2 separate regions of the Homo sapiens genome follow, and region 2 is linked to region 1. Evidence: fine-mapped expression QTL. A gene starts in region 1. The other region holds a variant in brackets. All regions are shown on one strand. Distances are between the middles of the regions.

Region 1 (10,204 bases):
CCCCCTGCAAGGGTCCTTCTAATTTTCTCTGTCACAGTTAATGAATCACCAACCACCTACTTTTCAAAGTTTACAAATTTGGAATTTTAACTCCTCAGTAATCAAATTCCTTTAATTCTTCCTCCAAAATTCTTTTCAAATTTCTTCTCTGTCACCATTGAATTAGGTTAGACTTTCATCTGGCCAGATTAATCAGTCAACAGATAATTCTGGAACACTTACCAAATGACAAGAACTATGTCAGGTTGCCCACGATCCCTATTTTCCCAGCTAACAATTTCTTCCCCCATAGAAGGCCATTCTTCACACTAACATTAAAATTGTCTGTCTCCCTGACCCTTACCCAAAAAAAGTAAGGTCAGCCCTCTTGCATGAGGTATAAAAAGCCTTCTTAAAACTTCCCCCAGGCTGGACCCAGTGGCTCATGCCTATAATCCCAGCACCTTGGGAGGCCCTAGGTGGGAGGACCACTTGTGTCCTGGAGTTGGAGACTAGCCTGGGCAATACAATGAGACCCCGTCCCTACAAAAAATAAAAAATTAGCCAAGCATGGTGGCACATGCCTGTAGTCCCAGCTACTCAGGAGGCTGAGGTGGGAGGATCGCTTTTGCCTAGGAGGTCGACGCTGCAGTGAGCTGTGATTACACTACTGCACTCCAGCCTGGGTGACAGAGCAAAACCCTGTCTCAAAAAACAAAAAAACTGGCCAGGCACGGTGGCTCACGCTTGTAATCCCAGCACTTTGGGAGGCCGAGGCAGGTCGATCATGAGGTCAGGAGTTCGAGACCAGCCTGGCCAACACAGCGAAAGCCCATCTCTACTAAAAATAAAAAAATTAGCTGGGCATGGTGGCAGGCACCTATAATCCCAGCTACCCAGGAGGCTGAGGCAGGAGAATCGCTTGAAACCAGAGGCAGAGGTTACAGTGAGCTGAGATCACGCCACTGCACTCCAGCCTAAAAAAAAAAAAAAAAAAAAAAAGCAAAAAAACAAAAAAACTGCCCTCGAACTCCTATGGTCTCAATGCCTTGCCACCACTCCCTATTCTTAAAATATGCACATACACATCCTAACTCTTCTCAACTGCCTCACCTTACAACAAACTGGAGCCATCTTGTGTCTCTGCCTTGGAATGCCCTTCTCCTGTCTGAAAAATCTCTACTCATCCATCAACATCCAATTTCTATATGCCATTACTAAATGAAACCTTTCCTAATAATCCCTGGAAAAGATTCTATACTCCCACTGCGCTGTATTAATGTATTAACATGTCTGTCTTCCTCAACCAGATGCTTAACTCAACATCTTTTAACTCTAGTACCTGGAATGTCTGGCCTACAGATTCATTCAACGTTTGCAGAATGAATACATTCTATCATATCCATGTTACTACAATTGGTAGCCAAGGTCTATAAACACTTAACAACTAATATGGTTAAAATAAATAGCATTTCAGCACCTTGACAGTAACGGGGTGCTCCTTACTTGTGTATCTCATGTTCGTTAGTATATACCTGGCTAGCTAATTGAACAAGAGACATCATTTTCAACAACTCTGTTTAACTAGCTTTTGTAATTTAGTTTGAAAAATTAAGAGACAAATAAATGTGGGAAAAGGTGTTCTTCAATATTCATACTCTAATTTGGAAGTCAAACAGCCATTGCTATCATAGCCAAATTACCTGACCTCAAGCACTATTATCAAGGAACCTATATTTACAGAAAGAAAAAAAAATGAAATTTTAATCCTGGCATTTAGGACCTCCAAAATTAAACCCCGATTTACCTTACATGCCACTCTTCCTCTTTATGTGTGCTATATATACTCCAGCCAAAATGAATGCTCCCCTTATCTCCAGGGCCTACAACCCTCCCTTTATGTCTTAGCTTTTATTGTCTGCTTTACTGAAAAGTCCCTCCATCCAGTTCCACAAACTCAAATCTAATTTATCCTCTGTAGGTAATTCAAATGCCACCTTCTAATCCTTTCTTTCTTCTAGAGGCAATCTTCCCATCCTCTCAACACCTATGGCACATCTAGACCTCTTTGAAACCATTTATAACCTTATTTTTAAGAGTATAGTATCATATATCCACCTTCTCTCCCTCTATTTGATAAGGACAAGTTCTATACTTAATTCTATTTTCCAAAATATGTACCTTGTAATTCACAAAATTAAGTTAACAAGCAGTAGAAAATAAAAGTCTCTTTAAAAAAGAAAGAAAACAGTCTCATGGTGAAAAAAGTTGGGGAAATGGACTTCTCATCATCTTTAACATATTAAGGTATACCGCAAATCTCCAACGAAACAGACTATGCTCATTTCCATAACTTACTTGGTCACTGAACCCTTTTTTTTTTTTTTTGCGACACATCTCATAGGATTAATATTTCTATGGCATGCCCTTTGAGACATGCAGCCTCGTCAATTTCAGAACTTTATCTTGAACTTAAAAGGTACTCAACAAATATCTGTAGAATGAATGAATAATTAACCCTAGTTACTAACCAAGAACTCTCCCGTAATGGTAGCCCAAACAGAGAAAAGCGAAGATTCTTGAAGAATTATGGGGGAAAAAATTAAGCAAATGAGGAAAGAATGTCCTCAGTAGTACAATAAAAGGAGAGAGGAACATTTGCAACAACATAAAAAGAACTGGCGGGGCACGGTGGCTCACACCTGTAATCCCAGCACCTTGTGGGGCCAAGGTGGGCAGATTGTTTAAGCCCAGGAGATCAAGACCAGCCTGGGCAACATGGTAAAACCTTATTTCTGCAAAAAATTTTTAAAAATCAGCTGGGCATGGAGGCAGGCACCTCTAGTCCCAGCTACTCTGGAGGCTAAGGTGGGCAGATGGATTGTGCCAGGAGGGTAGAGGCTGCAGCGAGCAGTGATTACCCAACTGCACTCCAGCCTATGCGATAGAGCAAGACCCTGTCTCAAAAACAAAGAAAAGGAATTTCTGAGCCCAGCCACTTTGTATATGTAGAAGATACAATTTATCTACACCACATAAGAATCCTTACTCAGAATGTCTATCCTGAGGAGATTTTAAAACACTGTACATGGATCTTTTCAGAAAGATCTGTCAACAAAAGTTGAAACTAAGAAGGTATTCTGAGAAACTTCCAGGATATACACTATTACAATAGCCAAATCATCTATTACTAAATCATTTCGGTCAACTGAGGAAATATATTACAGTTTGATTTTGTTATATGAAGTTGTTTTCATTGAGAGTCATGGGACCAATAAGATTTTAAAAGAAGCAGAGTTAACATAATGAAATGTCATGGATTCAAAAGCTTAATTTTGTTTTCATTTAACTTCTCCTAACATGAAAAGTGAAAGCATAATTCTATTTAACAGTGCATGAAAATCAGGATGCATAAAAACCAAACATCCTTGACTACATCCTGCCTTCCGTTTTCCACAGTTCTCCAGCTGGGACTAAGAAAGGGAAGCAGGAGAAAAAGATACTTCCCGTGACTCTTACTACAACCTAGATGCTATGGCAGTAGTTACAGGAAACTGAGCAGTGACAGGATTTTTTTTCCTCCTCCCTCCAAGGCCAAGAGATCAACTTTTCACTTGGGGATGAAAACTTACTCAAGAGTAGAGTCCACTGTAGGGCTGGATTCATAGCAGTACCAGAAAAGATAAATGCACTTCTTAATTATAACTATTGAAACTTAATTGTAACTATTATGCTTTTAATTATGATGAAGCAACAAGCTACATATAGTCAAGAAAAAAAGTCACGTCAGTTTTAAGATCTATAAATACGTTTAAATTTGTCCTAAAAACCCTCTGGCCTAAGGGTAGTCTAAGGGCTACTGTCTCTATTATCACAGAATCTTACTGGCTACCATGTAACTAGAGTCACTAAATTACATTATATATATGTATGTTATATATACGTTATATATATATATGTGTATGTGTGTGTGTGTATATATATATATATATAAAACGTATATATATACTACTTAACCTAATAGCAGGACCCCAGAAAGCAAAATATATATTTCCCCACCTCCTCCCCTTCCCCGCTAGGGAGAGGGGAAAAAAAAAAATCAAACATATTTCCAAATAAGTTACTGAAATCATGTGGTCAAACATTTAAATAAAAATATACATAAGATGGTCCAAGGTACAACTGGAACTGTCAAGCAGGATTAACTCAAAGGATAATGTCTTATGAACTGTATGACAACATATATAACAGTTTTCAGTTAAGAGCTGGCTTGCCGGCAAATACCTTAATTAAAGATCTCATACAACTTCATCGTTTTCTCCCTTTTTAAGATGTGAAAAATAAAACAAGGAACCACAGCACTACTTAGTACCTAGGGACACAGTAAAAGTTCCTAGCAGGAAAAATGTCTCCCCGTTCTTGTGTCAATAAACAGATGGCACAATTTTGGAATTACAGAAATTAATGTAGCATATCTCCCAACACTTAAGTGAGAAAATACAATATCTCTGAAGTCTTTCTTGTAATTACAATCCTTCATTCACAAATTACTGTCTTATTACAACTTATTATAACAATAACATATATTACTCCTCTCAAAAAAAGCATTATCTATCCAAAAGCTGACTGATATGCAAAATATAGTAACAATAACAAATGTAAATTTCCATTTGTTATTAAAACTGTGGCATTCAAATTGTAAGCCACAAAAACTGCTGAATCTTACGCAGAAAAAGGATACCATTTTCACTTATGGAGAAGTTCCCTATTGTGGATTACAGTCTTCTCAATTATTACACTTTTGTTACTCAATGTGAAACACAAGCACACACACAAAAAAGGGGTCTTTCTTTCCTTTTTCTTATCCGTTTTCATTTCTTTCACACAAGGAGATGCTTTATACGTGTCATTGTTTTGTAGCCTAATTAGAGTTTTCCTATTCTATTATCTCAAACTTTTATCACAGCTTCTTACAACGGACTTCACGAAATTAAATTTTAAGGTTTAGATACTGTAAACGCTCGAGGAAAGACATTAGTATTCTCACTATTACATATTAAGGATTCTCTAGCTTGCAGTTAGGTGATTTTATAATACATGTAAATGCATATAATACACTTAAGGTGCATTATATACATGAAACGAAGTGTTCGTTTTATTTTATAAACTTTTTTTATTTTATAATACACGTAAATGCCTCGAGTGTATTATTATGTATTACATGAAATAAAGTGTTCACTTGAATTTTGCCTCCCTTCAGTCTATCTCTCTTCAGTCGAAAGAGATAAGTAGGCCTTTATTGTCCAAAAAAAAAAAAATTGTCCCAGCCTTTTCAAATGTCAGGTTAAACTGGCAGTCCTATGAATGCCACCTGCAACCTTACTAATGGAATAATTACTCAAAACGAGAAGCCCCCAAGAGTCCCGATCTCAAGTGGCTTCCTCCTATTATTCCCGCGAGGACCCCAGCGACAAGACTCGCCCAACCTGAGGCTCCTGGCTCTCTTTCCTCGTCCTGAGTCAGCCCTTCCCACTACTCATCCGGAGTAGACATCTTCCAACACCCGAACCTTCCAGACTTTCCCTCTTGCCCCCACAAACAAAAGCAACCCTCCTCCCTTGGGACACCCGGCTTCCCCTCTCTGCCGACCGGCCGCCCAGCCCACCTCGGCCCCAAGCACCCCTCCCCCATTTCACGCTCCGCCCGCGCTGACACGGAGCTGCCACCCCAACCCTTCTGTTTCGCACCTCTCTCCCGAGGGCTCCTCCTGGGCAGCCAGCAAACGCCCGCTCCTCGGCCCGCCCACCCAGCTGCCTGCAAACCCCGGGCCTGCCACTCCCTGTAGAGCCGCCGGGGCCCACCTCGAAGAGCTCGGCCGTGGTAGCCATCCCGGCCGGCTGAGAGGCTCGCCCCCCACTGGATGCCGTCTCCGCTTCACATGCTGCGCCTCAGAGGCGCGGCGCACAGGTCTCCGCTCGGCTCGCCAGCTCCGGCTCCGGGCCGCTGCGGGCTCCCCAGCTCCCCACAGATCCCAGGAGGGGCGGGAGAGCGGCCATGAAGCGAAGCCGCAAACGCTTGTCAGCTGCCTCCCGGCGCCGCCCGCGCTGCTCCCATTGTCACCGCCTCATACGCCGGAAGTGGAACTGCGCGCGCCAGGGAGGTTGTCGGGAGGGGCCGGCGAATAAAACGAGCGGCGAAAGAACCGAAAAAAGGCTCGACGCTACCGTGTATGAGGAACTTTGATCCTTGCGGGCCACCATTCCGGAAGTAGAATTTAGAGGAAGAAAATACCGGAGTTGCAGGGTATAGGTAAATTTCTCAAGGTTATAGGTTGGGGTTCTTAGAACTTTTTGTGGTGTGTGTTGGCCTAGAGCGACTCAGAAGCGTTAGTGACTTCACCTAAAAAAGCTAACCTCTCTGCTGAGCGCGACCGGTATGCGGCGCAGGATGAGCCTCAGGGCTTCTGTTAAGAGTCTGTCTGAGAAAGCCGGTCTGCGCTGTTCCTCGGTGGCGACCTTAATTATGAGATGAGCTAATGCTTTACTGACTTAACCATGGCGCAGCGGGCAGTGTGGCTCATAAGCCACGAACCGGGAACTCCACTTTGTGGCACCGTGAGATTCTCCAGGTAAATGCAAATCTGAATCCTCAGGGATGATGGATCAGAAGATCGATGAAGTAGCATAGTTTTGTGGTGCTTCGTGGCCCAGGTTTGCCACGAATAGCTGCGTGACCTTGGGCTAGCCAGTTAACAGACCTCTGTTTCGTCTGTTAAATGGAGATTTTAATAGTCCTACCTTACAGTGTTGTGAGAATTGAGTTGATGACTGGTACATATTATTTACGGTATATGTTTTCTATTAGTATTGTGTTTTAAAATGACCTCCGTCTGCTTAGAATTAAAATGGAGATGACTAAGGGAACGGTAGAAAATTTACTGAGCACTAAACATTTTCAGATTTTTCAACATGCATTGACAAAATCGTTCCAGAACATTTTAACTTATTCTACTGAAAAATCCATGCTAAGTTATATCAGACTTTTATTTTTTTGTTTTTATTTTTTTGAGACGGAGTCTCGCTCTGTTCCCCAGGCTAGAGTGCAGTGGTGCGATCTCCGCTCACTGCAAGCTCCGCCTCCCGGGTTCATGCCGTTCTCCTGCCTCAGCCTCCCGAGTAGCTGGGACTACAGGCACCCGCCACCACGCCCGGCTAATTTTTTGTATTTTTGGTAGAGAGGGGGTTTCACCGTGTTAGCCAGGATAGTCTTGATCTCCTGACCTCGTGATCCGCCCGCCTTGGCTCTCAAAGTGCTGGGATTACAGGCAGGAGCCACCGCGCCCCGCCCAGGCTTTTATTTTTATCTTGTTAATATGTGTCAATGGTAGAAATCATCAGTTTACAGTTCCTAATTGTTGAAGAAAATAGAAACACAAAAAAATGTATTCACTATTTCATATATTGTGTTAAGTTGATCTGGTCCCACTATTAGAATTTGCCCTGTGTAATCAAAATAGCTCTGTTAAGGGAATTGTACAGTAACTCATTGTAAAATGTTGGTGGCAATCGAGTGGGTCTATTTCACCTTTTATTCTCTGGCCATTGATAGTTCTTTTTTGTCACAATTCGTTCTTCCCTGAAGAAAGCTTATAGTGAAGTAGTACCATAGTAGAATTGAGATTGAGGCAGAAAAAAAAGATTTTAATTTTAAATGAAAATTGGTTGGCAATGGGGATATGAAAAATTCCTTCTTTGCAACCTTAACAGTTTTTGTTCCTGAGGGCATCAGAGTTGGAGTTTACCATTTCCCCCCAGGATTTCTGGCTGACACTAACCCCAACATTTGTTGTTGGACCTCAAATACAGGAGATTAATAATATTCTTTAGTACGTGGTTTTACCAGGCGCATCAGTCCGTACAAAGTATCTCTCATTTTACTTATATTCCCTTTGGTTACCTATTTCTAACTGCCGTTCCCTTCCCACTGACAGATAACTCTTAACATCTTCGATGTTACTCTTTTTCATTGTATGCATTTTTCAAATTACATAATTAAGTGTGCTTTAGACTTCACTTCCTAATGTTACATTTGTCACATTTCTCAACACTATTTTAAAGAAACATCCATGATACTTTGTGTTCATCTAAGGCAGCATGTCCAATAGAATTCTCTATGATGATGGAAAGGAGAAATGTTCTTAATCTGTACTGGCTAATACTGTAGCCACTAGCCACAAGTACCTATTGAGCTTTTGAGCTGCAGCTAGCATAACTGAGGAACTCAATTGTTAATTTTGGGTAATGTTAATTGATTTTTATTTAAGTTTAAATAGCCACATGTGGGTAGTTCTACTATGTTGGACAGTGCAAATCTAGGCCATTGTTTCTTCTTGCTCTGTAGTACTCATGGTTCACATCCTACACATTTACCTGTCCCCTTTACCTAGTGATGACCTCTCCCAAATTTGCCTCCAAAGAACACTGCCAAAGTATGCATCCTCAAATCTGTCCATGGGGCATGTCTATGCCGATTTTGACTAAAGACTGCCAAATAATCTGCTCCACAGAATGCTTTCAGCCACCTACGCACTCACTAGCAGCAAGAAGGGGTTCCCGTATCTCCATTCTTTCCTAACATGTAATTTTTGCCAATAAAGAACATCTTATTTTCGTTTGCATTTCTGTATGTAGCAATGATTGTTAGTCCTTTAAGTTTCCTCTACTGTGAATTGCCTGTACATGTCTTGTCCTTTTTTTCTTTGAAAGTTGCTTATTTTTTCCTCTGAATTTGTAGGAGTTTGTTTTGTATTCTTGGTATTAGTCCTATGTCATTTTTAGATAGTACAGATATTTTCTTTAATTTACCATTGTCAATTAACTTTATGTTGCCCTTGGTTAAACAGAAATCACTAATTTTGATGCAATCAAACTAGTTAATTGCTTTTGGGAATTTGTTGAAGTTTTTTCTCACCCATATTTCCCAAAAATATCTTCCTACATTGTCTTCTCTTTATAATTTCATCTGCTACATTTAGGTCTTTAACCCATATGTAGTCCATCTTTGGATATGATGTTAAGTAGGAATCCCATTTCGGTTTTCTCTGTAGTGTGGGTCAGTTTTTCTGACATCATCTTTTAAGCAGTATGTCATGTCTTCATTAATTTGTGAGGCTACTGGTAGTGTTAGTTATGTCCCCTCATATAAATGTTGGTCTGTCTCAGTTCTAGTACTTTGTCTTTCTTGTACCAATACAATATCTGTTGCTTTGTAGCTTATCTTAATATTTCATAGAGGTGAACTTTTTACTGCTTAAGTAAATAAGTTTCTTAAATCCTAGTTTTCAGAATGTTTTTTCACTGTGTTCAGGATATTATTTCAGAATAAAAAGTCAGATATGTTTGGATGGGCTTTTCAATACATTTATGGAGGTAGCAAGTTGTGTTCAAATAATTTAATTCTGTATCATTGAATGACTTAGTTAAATTTTATTATATTTTCAGTTTTCTAACCTCTTGGGGGAGGTGTTAGAGCTACACAGATAGGCACTGACACTTTATAAGTGTCAATAAGTGGCCAATATTTAAGATTTAAGAAGGCAAATGATGTTTTCTCTATCTAAGTACTTATTTCCTATAACAAAACTTGGTTAAGATTCTGGTTTAAAGGTTTGCTTTCCAGATAATAATAGCATCAGCTTACATCTGGCTTAGGTCGGTATCATACCCCATAGTTGTAGGCCCATTTAAGCCTTGAATCCTGTTTTAGAAAAAGCATATAATAAATTAGAAATGATAGGTTGAGTCATCCAACAAAATATTTATTGAACACATATTGGGGTGTTGTGTAAGTTCCCAGATTAACTTATCTTCACAGTCAATTGTGAAATTTTTATACTTAAGAACTTTAATTACCCTCTGGAAAACTAGATAATAAGAGATTGGACTAGAGTTTAGTCCAGAGATCTCTACTATTCATATACAGAGATTTAGAGAAATAAATGGCATTTACCTGCTATGCCATGCCATTACTGGTGTGCTACCTGATTCTTCCCCTTTCTTAATCAAGAAAATGCATCAGAATGTAGGTGATATTTACCTACACATGGGTAACTGCTTTTGGGTTTTTTGTTTGTTTGTTTGCTTGCTTGCTTGCTTGGTGTTTTTCTTTTTGTTTGTTTGTTTTTTGAGATGGAGTCTCACTCTGTTGCCCAGGGTGGAGTGCAGTG
Region 2 (10,467 bases), 860 kb before region 1:
TTTACTGGTGGTTTCTGAGATTTTGGTGCACTCATTACCTGAGCAGTGTACACTGTAACCAATGTGTGGTCTTCTATCATTTGCCCCCCTCCCACCCTTCCCCTCGAGTCTCCAAAGTCCATTTGTATCATTCTTATGCCTTTGTATCCTCATAGCTTAGCTCCCACTTATAAGTGAGAACATGTGATGCTTGGTTTTTCATTCCTGAGTTACTTCGCTTAGGAATAGTGGTCTCCGATTCCATCCAGGTTACTGTGAATGTCATTATTTCATTCCTTTTTATGGCTTAGTAGCAGTCCATAGTGTATATGTGCCACATTTTCTTTATCCACTCGTTGATTGATGGGCCTTTGGGCTGGTTCCATATTTTTGCAGTTGCAAATTGTCCTGATATAAACATGCATGTGCAAGTGTCTTTTTTCATATAATAACATCTTTTCCTCCAGGTAGATAGCCAGTAGTGGGATTGCTGGATCAAATGGTAGATCTACTTTTAGTTATTTAAGTAATATCCACACTGTTTGCTATAGTGGTTGTACTAGCTTACATTCCTACCAGCAGTGTAAAAGTGTTCCCTTTTCACCACATCCATGCCAAAATCTATTATTTTTTTATTTTTAAATTATGGCCATTTTTGCAGGAGTAAGGTGGTATTGCATTGTAGTTTTGATTTGCATTTCCCTGATAATTAGTGATGTTCAACATTTTTGAATGTATTTGTTGGCCACTTGCATACCTTCCTTTTTTTTTTTTTTTTTTTTTTTTGAGACAGAATCTTACTATGTCACCCAGACTGGAGTGCAGTGGTGCAATCTTGGCTCACTGCAACCTCCGCCTCCAAGGTTCAAGTGATTCTCATGCCTCAGCCTCCTGAATAGCTGGGATTACAGGCATGCACCACCATACCTGGCTAAGTTTTGTATTTTTTAGTAAAAACAGGGTTTCACCATGTTGGCCAGGCTCATCTTGAACTCCTGGCCTCAAGCGTTCCACCCACATTGGCCTCCCAAAGTGCTGGGATTACAGGTATGAGCTGCCATGGTCCAGCCTTGTATATCTTTTTTTTTTAGAATTGCCTATTCATGTCCTTAGCCCACTCATTGATAGGATTATTTGGTTTCTTTCTTGCTGATTTGTTTGAATTCCTTGTAGATTCTATATTGGTCCTTTGTTGCATGCATAGTTTGTGAAGATTTTCTCCCAGTGGGTCCCTCCCACACACATGGGAATGGTAGGAGCTATAGTTAAAGATGAGATTTGGGTGGGGACACAGCCAAACCTATATTATTAACCTTGAATGTAAATGGGCTAAATATCCCAATTAAAAGACAGAGTGGCAAGTTTGATAAAAAGGCAATACCTAACTGTATGATGCCTTAAGAGACCTATCTCACATTCATGATAATCATAGGTTCAGAATAAAGGAACAGAGAGAAATCTACCAAGCAAGTGGAAAACAGAAAATAACAGGGATTGATGTTGTAATTTCCGACAAAACAGACTTCAAGCCAACAATGATTGAAAAAGACAAAGAGGGGTATTACATAACGGTAAAGGGTTCAATTCAACAAAAATACCTAACTATCCTAAATATATATCCATCCAACAAGGGGGAAACCAGATTCATAAAGCAAGTTCTTAGAGACCAGCAAAGAGGCTTAGATAGCTACACAATAATAGTGGGAGACTTTAACACCCTACTGACAATATTAGACAGATCTCCGAGGCAGAAAACTCACAAAGATATTTGGGACCTTTATTTGTCCATTCTCACACTGCTATGAAGAAATACCTGAGACTGGGTAATTTATATAGAAAAGAGGTTTAATTGGCTCACGGTTCTGCAAGCTGTACAGGAAGCGTGGCTGGGTAGGCCTCAGGAAACTTGTGGCAAAAGGCAAAAGGGATGCAGGCATGTCTTACACAGCCAGAGCAGGAGGAAGAGTTGAGTGCAGTGCGCTACACTTCTAAACAACTAGATCTCATGGTAACTGACACACTAACATGAGAACAGTACCAAAGGGGAAACCCACCCCCATGATCACCCAATCATCTCCCACCAGGCTCCACCTCTAACATTGGGCATTATAATTTGAAATGAGATTTGGGTGGGGACACAGACCCAAACCATATCAGAACCTAACAGACATCTACAGAACTCTCCACCCCTCCAAAAAATATAGATTTTTCTCATCTGCATATGGCACATACTCTAAAATCAACCAAACAACAAGCAGCCATAAAATAATTCTCAGCAAATTAAAAAAAAAAACAAAATCATACCAACCATACCCTCAGACTACAGTGCAATAGAAATAGAAATTAATACTAAGAAAATCACTCTAAGCCATACAATTACATGGAAGTTAAACAACCTGCTCCTGAATGACTTTTGGGAAAACAATGAAACTAAGGCAGAAATCAAGAAATTGAAACTAATGAGAACAAAGATAAAACATACCATAACCTCAGGACATAGCTAAAGTAGTGTTAAAAGGTAGAGTTGATGGTGAAAAGTTAGAGGACCAGATGCAGTGGCTCACACCTGTAATCCCAACACTTTGGGAGACCAAGGCAGGTGGATTGCTTTGAGCCCAGGAGTTCAAGACCAGCCTGGGCAACATAGTGAAACCCCATCTCTACAAAATATTAGCTGGGCACAGTGGCTCATCCTGTATTCCCAGCTACTTGGGAGGTTTAGGTGGGAGGATTACTTGATTCCAGGAAGCAGAAGTTGCAGTGAGCTGAGATCATACCACTGCACTCCAGCCTGGATGACAGAGTAAGACCCTGTCTCCAAAAAAAAAAAAAAAAAAAAAAAAAAAATCTCAAATTAGCAACCTAACATCACACCAAGAGAAACTAGGAAAACAAGAGCAAACCAACCCCAAAGCTAGCAGAAGACAAGAAATAATCAAAATTAGAGCTGAATTGAAGGAAATTGAGACATAAAAGATTGACAAATCCAAGAGTTAGTTTTCTGAAAGAATAAATAAGATTTAGAGACTTCTGGCTAGACTAATAAAGAAAAAAGAGAAGATGTAAATAAACACAATCAGAAATTACAAAGGGGACATTACCAGTGACCCTACAGAAATACAAAAAATCTTCAGACAACTATGAATACCTCTGTGCACACAAGCTAGAAAACCTAGAAGAAATGGATAAATTCTTGGAAACAAAGAACCTCCCAAGATTAAACTGGAAAGAAACTGAATCTCTGAACAAACCAATAAGGAGTTCTGGAGTCAAATTAGTAATAAAAAGCCCACCAACCAGAAAAAGCCCAGGACCAGATGGATTCATGGCCAAATTTTACCAAATAAAGAATAACTGGTACCATTCCTACTGAAACTTTTCCAAAAAATTGAGGAGAAGTAACTCCTCCCTAACTCATTCTCTGAAGCTAGCATCATCCTGATACCAAAACCTGGCAGAGTCACAACAAATAAAGGAAACTTCAGGCCAATATTGTTGATGAATGTAGATGCCAAAACCCTCAACAAAATACTGGCAAACTGAATCCAGCAGCACATTAAAAATCTAATCCACCATGATCAAGTAGGCTTTATCCCTGGGGTGCAAGTTTGGTTCAACATATGCAAATCAATAAACGTGATTCCTCACATAAACAGAACTAAAAACAAAAACCACATAATCATCTTAATAGATGCAGAAAAGACTTGATAAAATTGAACATCCCTTTATGTTAAAAATCCTTAATAAACTAGGCACTGAAGGAGCATACCTCAAAATAATTAAAGCCATCTACAAAAAACCCACAGCCAACATTATACTGAATGGACAAAAGCTGGAAGCATTCCCCTTGAGAACAAGACAAGAACATACCCACTCTCACCACTCCTATTCAACATGGTACTGGAAGTCCTAGCCAGAGCAATCAGGCAAGAGAAAGAAAGCATCCAAATAGGAAGAGAGGAAGTCAAACTGTCTCTGTTTGCATATGATATAATTCTATACCTAGAAAATCCCATAGTCTCTGCCTAAAAGCTCCTACATCTGATTAAACAACTTCAGCAAAGTTTCAAGATATAAAATTAATGTACAAAAATCAGTAGCATTTCTATATGCCAACAATGTCCAAGGTGAGAGCCAAACCAATAACGTGATCCAATTCACAATAGCCACAAAAAGAGTAAAATACCTAGGAATACAGCCAAACAGGGAGATGAAAGACCTCTACCACAAAAATCACAAAACTCTGCTCAAACCGTCAGATTTGACACAAACAAATGGAAAAACACTTCATGCTCATGGATAGGAAGAATCAATAATGTTAAAATGGCCATACTGCCCCAACCAATTTAGAGTCAATGCTATTTCTATCAATCTACCAATGGTATTCTTCACAGAATTAGAAAACTATTTCAAAACTTACATGAAAGCAAAACAGAGCACGAACAGCCACAGCAATCCTAAGCAAAAAGAACAAAGAGGTGTCACACTACCTGACTTCAGACTATACTACAAGGCTACAGTAGCCAAAACAGCTTGCTGCTGGTACATAAATAGACACAAACCAATGTAACGTAATAGCCGAGAAAGAATGCCACACACCTACAACCATCTGATCATCAACAAAGTCAATAACAATGGGGAAAGAACTCCCTATTCAACAAGTGGCTAGCCATATGCAGAAGATTGAAAATGGACCCCTTCCTTACATCATATACAAAAATCAGCTTCAGATGGATTAATAATTTAAATGTAAAACCTAAAACTTTAAAAACCTTGAAAGGCAACCTAGGAAATACTATTCTGTAAAGGGCCCTGTCAAAGATTGCATGACAAAGATGCCAAAAGCAATTGCAACAAAAACAAAAATTGACAAATGGGACTAAACTAAAGGGTTTCTGCAAAGCAAGAGAAACTATTAACAGAGCAAAAAGGCAGCCTACAGAATGGAAGAAAATATGTGCAAACTGTGCTCCTGACAAACGTCAAATATCCAGAATCTATAAGGAATTTAAACAAGCCAAAAACAATCCCTTTAAAAAGTGAGCAAAGGACATGAACAGACACTTTTCAAAAGACATACACAAAAGCAACAAGCATATTAAAATATGCTCAACATCACTAATCATGAAAGGAATGCAAATCAAAACCACGATGAGATACCTACCGTCTCACACCCATCAGGATAGCTATTATTAAAAAGTCAACAGATGCTGTCAAGGTTGCAAAAAAAAAAGGGAAGACTTCTACACTGCTGGTGGGAATGTAAATTAGTTCAGCCGTTGTGGAAAGCAGTTCGGTGATTTCTCAAACTTAAAACTATCATTCATTCCAGCAACCCCATTATTGGGTATATACCCAAAGGAATGAATATAAATTTTTCTACTCTAAAGACACATACGCATCCATGTTCATCACAGCACAATTCACAATAGTGAAGACGTAGAATCAACCTAATGGCCTGTCAGCAGTAGCCTTGATAAAGAAAATGTGGTACATAGACAGTATGGAAGCCTATGCAGCCATTAAAAAGAACAAGATCATATCCTTTGCAGCAACATGGATGAAGCTGGTGGCCATTGTCCTAAGCTAACTAATGCAGGAGCAGAAAACCAAATACTGCATGCTCTCACTTATAAATAGGAGCTAAATATTGAGTACACAGGGACACAAACAAGGGAATGACAGACACTGGAGCCTACTTGAGGATGAAGGGTGGGAGGAGGGTGAGGGTATACATATCAGATACTATGCATATTACCTGGGTGATGAGTAATCTGTACACCAAGTGCCCATGATATGCAATTTACCTATATAACAAATCTATACATGTACCCCTGAAACTAATAGTTAAAAAAAACTTTTGTAGTTTTAGTATTTCCATTTTTGTCTTTGATCTATTTTGAGTTAGTTTTTATATATGGCATGATGAAAGGGACCAACTTCTTTCTTTTGCCTGTGGCTATCCAGTTGTTCTAGCGCCATTTGTTGAAAAGATTGTTCGTCCCCTCATTGAATTGCTCTGACACTTCGGTCACAATTCAATTGGCCATTAATTAACAGCTTCTTTGTGCACTTTCAATTCTATTTCAATGATCTATAAGTCTATCTTCATGCCAGTACCATACTGTCTTAATTATTGGATCTTTGTCATAGGTTTCAAAATTGGGAAGTATGAATCCTCCTATTTTTTTTTTCAAGATTGTTTTGGCTCCAGAACTGTGGGAAATAAATTTCTGTTGCTTAAAATCTGCCCAATTTGTGGTATTGTGTTATAGCAACCAAAATGGACTAAGGCAAGCAGCCTTCCATAAGTTTTGATATGTTGTGGTTTTCTTTTTTTCATCTCAAAGTATTATTTCCTTTCCCTTGTGATTCCTTCTTTAA[C/T]TCATTGGTTATTTAGAAGTGTGTCTTTTAATTTTCACGTTTGTGAATTCCTGAAATTTCTTTCCATTACTGATTTCTAATTTCATTCCATTGTGTCATAGAAGATTCTATGATTTTCATCTCTTTAACATTATTGAGACTTCTTTCTATAGCCTAACGTGTGTTCTATTTTGGGGAATGCTGAGTGTTTGCTTGATGCAACGTGTGTTCTGTTGTTTGGTGGAGTGTGCTATAGATTTCTGTTATGTTTAGCTGTTTTATAGTGTTGTTCAAGTCTTCCATTACCTTGTTGATCTTCTGCCTTGTCAGCCTATCCCTTATTAAAAGTGGGATATTGAAATTTACAACTATTACTGCTGAATCTAATTCTTCCTCAATTCTATTAATCATTCATGTATTTTGGGCCTCTGTTATTAGGGACATACATGTTTGTAATTGTTATGTTTTCCTGATGGAATGGTCATTCTGTGATTATAAAATGTTCTTTTTATCTCTAGTAACAATGGTCTTAAAGTCGATTTTTCTGTTAATATTATAGCCACTCCAGCTCTTTTTAGGTTACTGTTTGCATAGCAGATCTTCTTCCTTCCTTTCACTTATTTGTTTTTGAATCTTGAGTGTCTTTAGACTTAAGCTCCAAACCCATTCTTCTTCCTTCAGTAACTGCTAGGCTGCTGTTTTTACAGTTACCATGGCTGTAAGGCTGTTCACTTTTGAGACTACTATGAAACTGTGGAGAAGGGAATGGGGATAGGGCAAGCTAGAATGTCACAAAGCTTGCTGTTTTTACCAATAGTCAGCTGCTTTTCTTGAAGAAATGCACCTCAGAGTGTTGTATACCTTTGGCTAATTTCCACAATTCTGAAAAAAATTGATTTTGACTATTTTTGCCAGGATGTTTATTGCTTCTTATGGAAAAGTCTATTTTTGGAGGTCATTACTCTACCATTCCAGAAATGTTTCCCTAGAATCTGAATTCCCACAAGATCCTCAGATAGTTGTAGGCACATAAAAGTTTGAGAAACCTTGGTTTATAGGATATCACCTGTCCCTAAATTTTCTGGATATCTTCATTTGAAGTTATCAGGTGACCAAGGAATCTTCCAATTGGTTTGGATTCTAACTGTATATAGGTAATATCTAATATGAAAAGTTTATATTGTCAGATCCTACAATGATTAAAAAAAAAAACAGCCTCTGTCTACCTTTGTGCTTATTTCTGGAAATGTTTGTATGAGCCTTGATCATTTTATTTGATTGTCACTCATTAATTAACATAAAAGTTTCCACTTGGTATAATTTTTTGGCATCTTCTCACCAAACATGGGTGTTGCTGGCTATTCTAAATGAACTCAGAATACCCTATCTCCTGACCCAAGGGTAGCCTGTTTTCTGTGACAAAGTAAACAAAATAGTTTCTTCCTAGCTTTTGTTTATTTGTTTGTTTCCTGAAAGAGCCATTGTGTTTCAAGGAGAAGAAGAAGAAGAACGGAACAGTTTGCTTCCTTGGAGTGCAACTGTCCCCGGGCTGGTTAGGAGGTGTAATGTGGAGCAAAGGCCGTGCGCTGAGAGGAAATATGGCCTGGTTTCCCTCTGCCTCATCCTGGGTTCTCCTCTCACCATTTCTACTCATCTTCTTACACATCTTTCTTTTTCCTTCTTTCTTCCTATTTCTTCCCCATTTGTCTTATTCAGTAAGAACTCATTTATTGGTCAGTTCACAGGATTTTCTGCTTTTCAGAGAAATTTTGGAGCAAAACTTGATTTCCTTTTCTGATCTGTGACCCTATGTCCTTTCTGGCCTTGTCTGCCTCTCTTAGCCTGAACCTTTCCCTTTTCTCTTTCCTTATTGTCCCAACATTTTTAAGTAAAAAAATTATGTTGAGAGCACATCTCTTCCTCTTGGACATGGATGTAGAATTTGCCAAATTAACCACTCATGTCCATCCTTAATGTCCTACAACCAGGCCACTCTGCCATTAGAGAGAAGCAACTTTTTTTTCAGTATAGAAGAAAAGGAGGAGTTATGCTTCAAAGGAGAAAAATACTTCACCACCTCAATTGCTAATTTTGCTGAAGTCTTCAAAAATAACAAAATAAAATGTAAATCAATAGCTGCATGAAGAGGAACAGGCACTAGAACCGAGCTGTCTTGGACAAGAAGACGGGTGGGTACTGCTCAGGCTGAAATGCATTGGCTTGGATTTAACATATAGATGAAGCACAGCTCGGTGCCTTTAGCTGGTAAGAATCAAATCGTGAGGCTAAACACTAAATTAGCTGTGTGCCTGTACCTCACAGCAGAGCCAAAATGAGGCACTGTTTTTTTATCCCTGCACCTTCCGATGCCTGCCAAAAAGAATTCAAGCAAGGAAAAATATGCCTCCTGTTGTTTGGGGGAGTTACAAGATACATTTAAAAATTGATTTATGGTTTAATCGCTTTTGAAGCTTCATTATTCCAAGTATTAGCGTGAAAGACCATCTGATCCAGCAGACTTATTTGTTAATGCACCGACAGCAGCAACAGATGTGCTGTTTTTCATCTACAACCCGATCTGCTGGCTGATTCATCTGCTTCCGTTTTCATTTTCCTGTCATTGATTTATTAATGATGTCTTACTTATCTGTGGTTCTTTTATGGGGTGGGCTTCCTCTGGCATGGTCTCAAGAGAGATGTTTTTGCACCTTCCCCAGGCATCAAAAACCCAGCCCCCTTCTCCGGTGTTCTTTATCACCACTCCAGAGATTAGAGACTTTAATCATTTAGTAACTGAAATAACCTCCGTGGCTTGCAGAGTTTATGGCCAATTTGTCTTCATTGCACCGAATTCAACTGCTTTTCTTTGCTAAGGAATGGGCCTTGCTTATTATGCTCCTTCTTTGCACCAGAGGGAATCAGTGTGTTGTCTACAGACCCAATGCAGATAGTGGGTGGCTATGAGTGGCTCAGGACCATGAAAGTATGGCTCAGAGAACACATGTATGTATACCATAGGGCTATTAGCATGTTGAGTTGCTTAGAGTTTGGCTGTGGCTTTCAGCTCCAAGTAGCAAAGGAAGGGTAGACAGGAGGGTTGAAATTCTGGGACCATTTGCAGGACCATCACTGGGATTGTCTACTCCAAATGCCACATGGACCCCTTTTGTTGTCTATGTTAAAAAGGAAAAAAAAAGACCTTGGTTTGTTTTGAAACCTGAGACCCCTAGAAAACTTAAGATGCTGGGTAATTGAGACTTACAAAGATGTATTTCACCTAAATTTTACCTGAGAATCTGAAAACGATGACTTGTTATGCAGTTAAGGTTTGTAAAACTCCATATGTGTTAGGTAGGTCGTTGTAGACGATGTCATGATTCTCTGTCTAGATCCTCCCAGCAGCCTCAAGCACTCATTCCATCTCCCCAAGGCTGACAACTCTTAACTAAGTCCTTGTTTGGGACTTGTTCTGGGTTAAAGAGAGCCAGTCACCTTGACCAAGGTTACACTTCCTTCCAAGGGGCAACCCTTACTGGGTGCCTGCCCCACTCATCTCAACTTGAGACCACGCTGCAGGGCCATCCTGGCTCCAGAGCTCGCCATGGGATCAGTGAGGCCTCTGTTGTGGTAGCATCGTGGTTCATCTTCTCCCTTGGCCCAGTTCTGCTTCCTTCACTGTCCTAAAAGAGATGGTCCCCAGAGCAGTTCCACTTCCTAATAAGCTTTTTGTGGGCAAAACTGTCTCAGATTTTCTCAGGGATCCAAACCTGCAACAGTTGGTACAAAGAGTGATAAATCACCAGAAGTCTTCCTTTGCAGCATATACAGAGACTCATCTCCTGCAGTTGGAGAGCTGATAAACTGAAGGACGGCCAAGGGCTTAATCAAGAAAGTAGCAGAGCTCCAGAGAAGGTTGCGTTCTTAGCCCTGACAGGTCTGCTGTGCTAAGGCCTGGAGTGGGACCTGGGCCTGGGATAGGTATATCTGGGTTGGTGTACTAGAAAAGTGGGAATTTCCAGATTCTTCTGAACCCTCTGGGACCACAGTTGGGTCCCACTGCTCTTTGTTAAAGGCTAATGCTCCTCCCTTGCCTGAAGATGTCACAGAGGTCTCTGTTTTACAAGG

Direction of the effects. Alleles are on the strand shown, and positions count from the first base shown. SD is a standard deviation of normalised expression in the study named.
With allele C in place of T in region 2, the expression in caudate of the gene that starts at base 6,124 in region 1 is higher (moderate effect, 0.75 SD a copy in GTEx).

What was found.
Region 2: its variant is fine-mapped to the expression of EXOC5 in caudate (GTEx, PIP 0.99).

The regions. Positions count from the first base shown.
Region 1 is chr14:57,262,782-57,272,985 of GRCh38, forward strand. It overlaps EXOC5 (exocyst complex component 5), which reads right to left and starts at 6,124. Exons shown (of 18, transcript NM_006544.4): 1 at 5,841-6,124. The coding sequence starts at 5,867. AP5M1 (adaptor related protein complex 5 subunit mu 1) reads left to right here and starts at 6,190. Exons shown (of 8, transcript NM_018229.4): 1 at 6,190-6,607. The coding sequence starts at 6,534. RefSeq lists a silencer at 5,555-5,614 and enhancers at 5,924-6,507, 6,155-6,354.
Region 2 is chr14:56,403,925-56,414,391 of GRCh38, forward strand. All of the region lies in intron 6 of LINC02284 (long intergenic non-protein coding RNA 2284), which reads left to right. Among named protein-coding and RNA genes, the nearest start is that of LINC02284, 98 kb to the left of the region's middle. RefSeq lists an enhancer at 9,741-10,467. The variant C/T (reference allele first, on the strand shown) is at 6,364.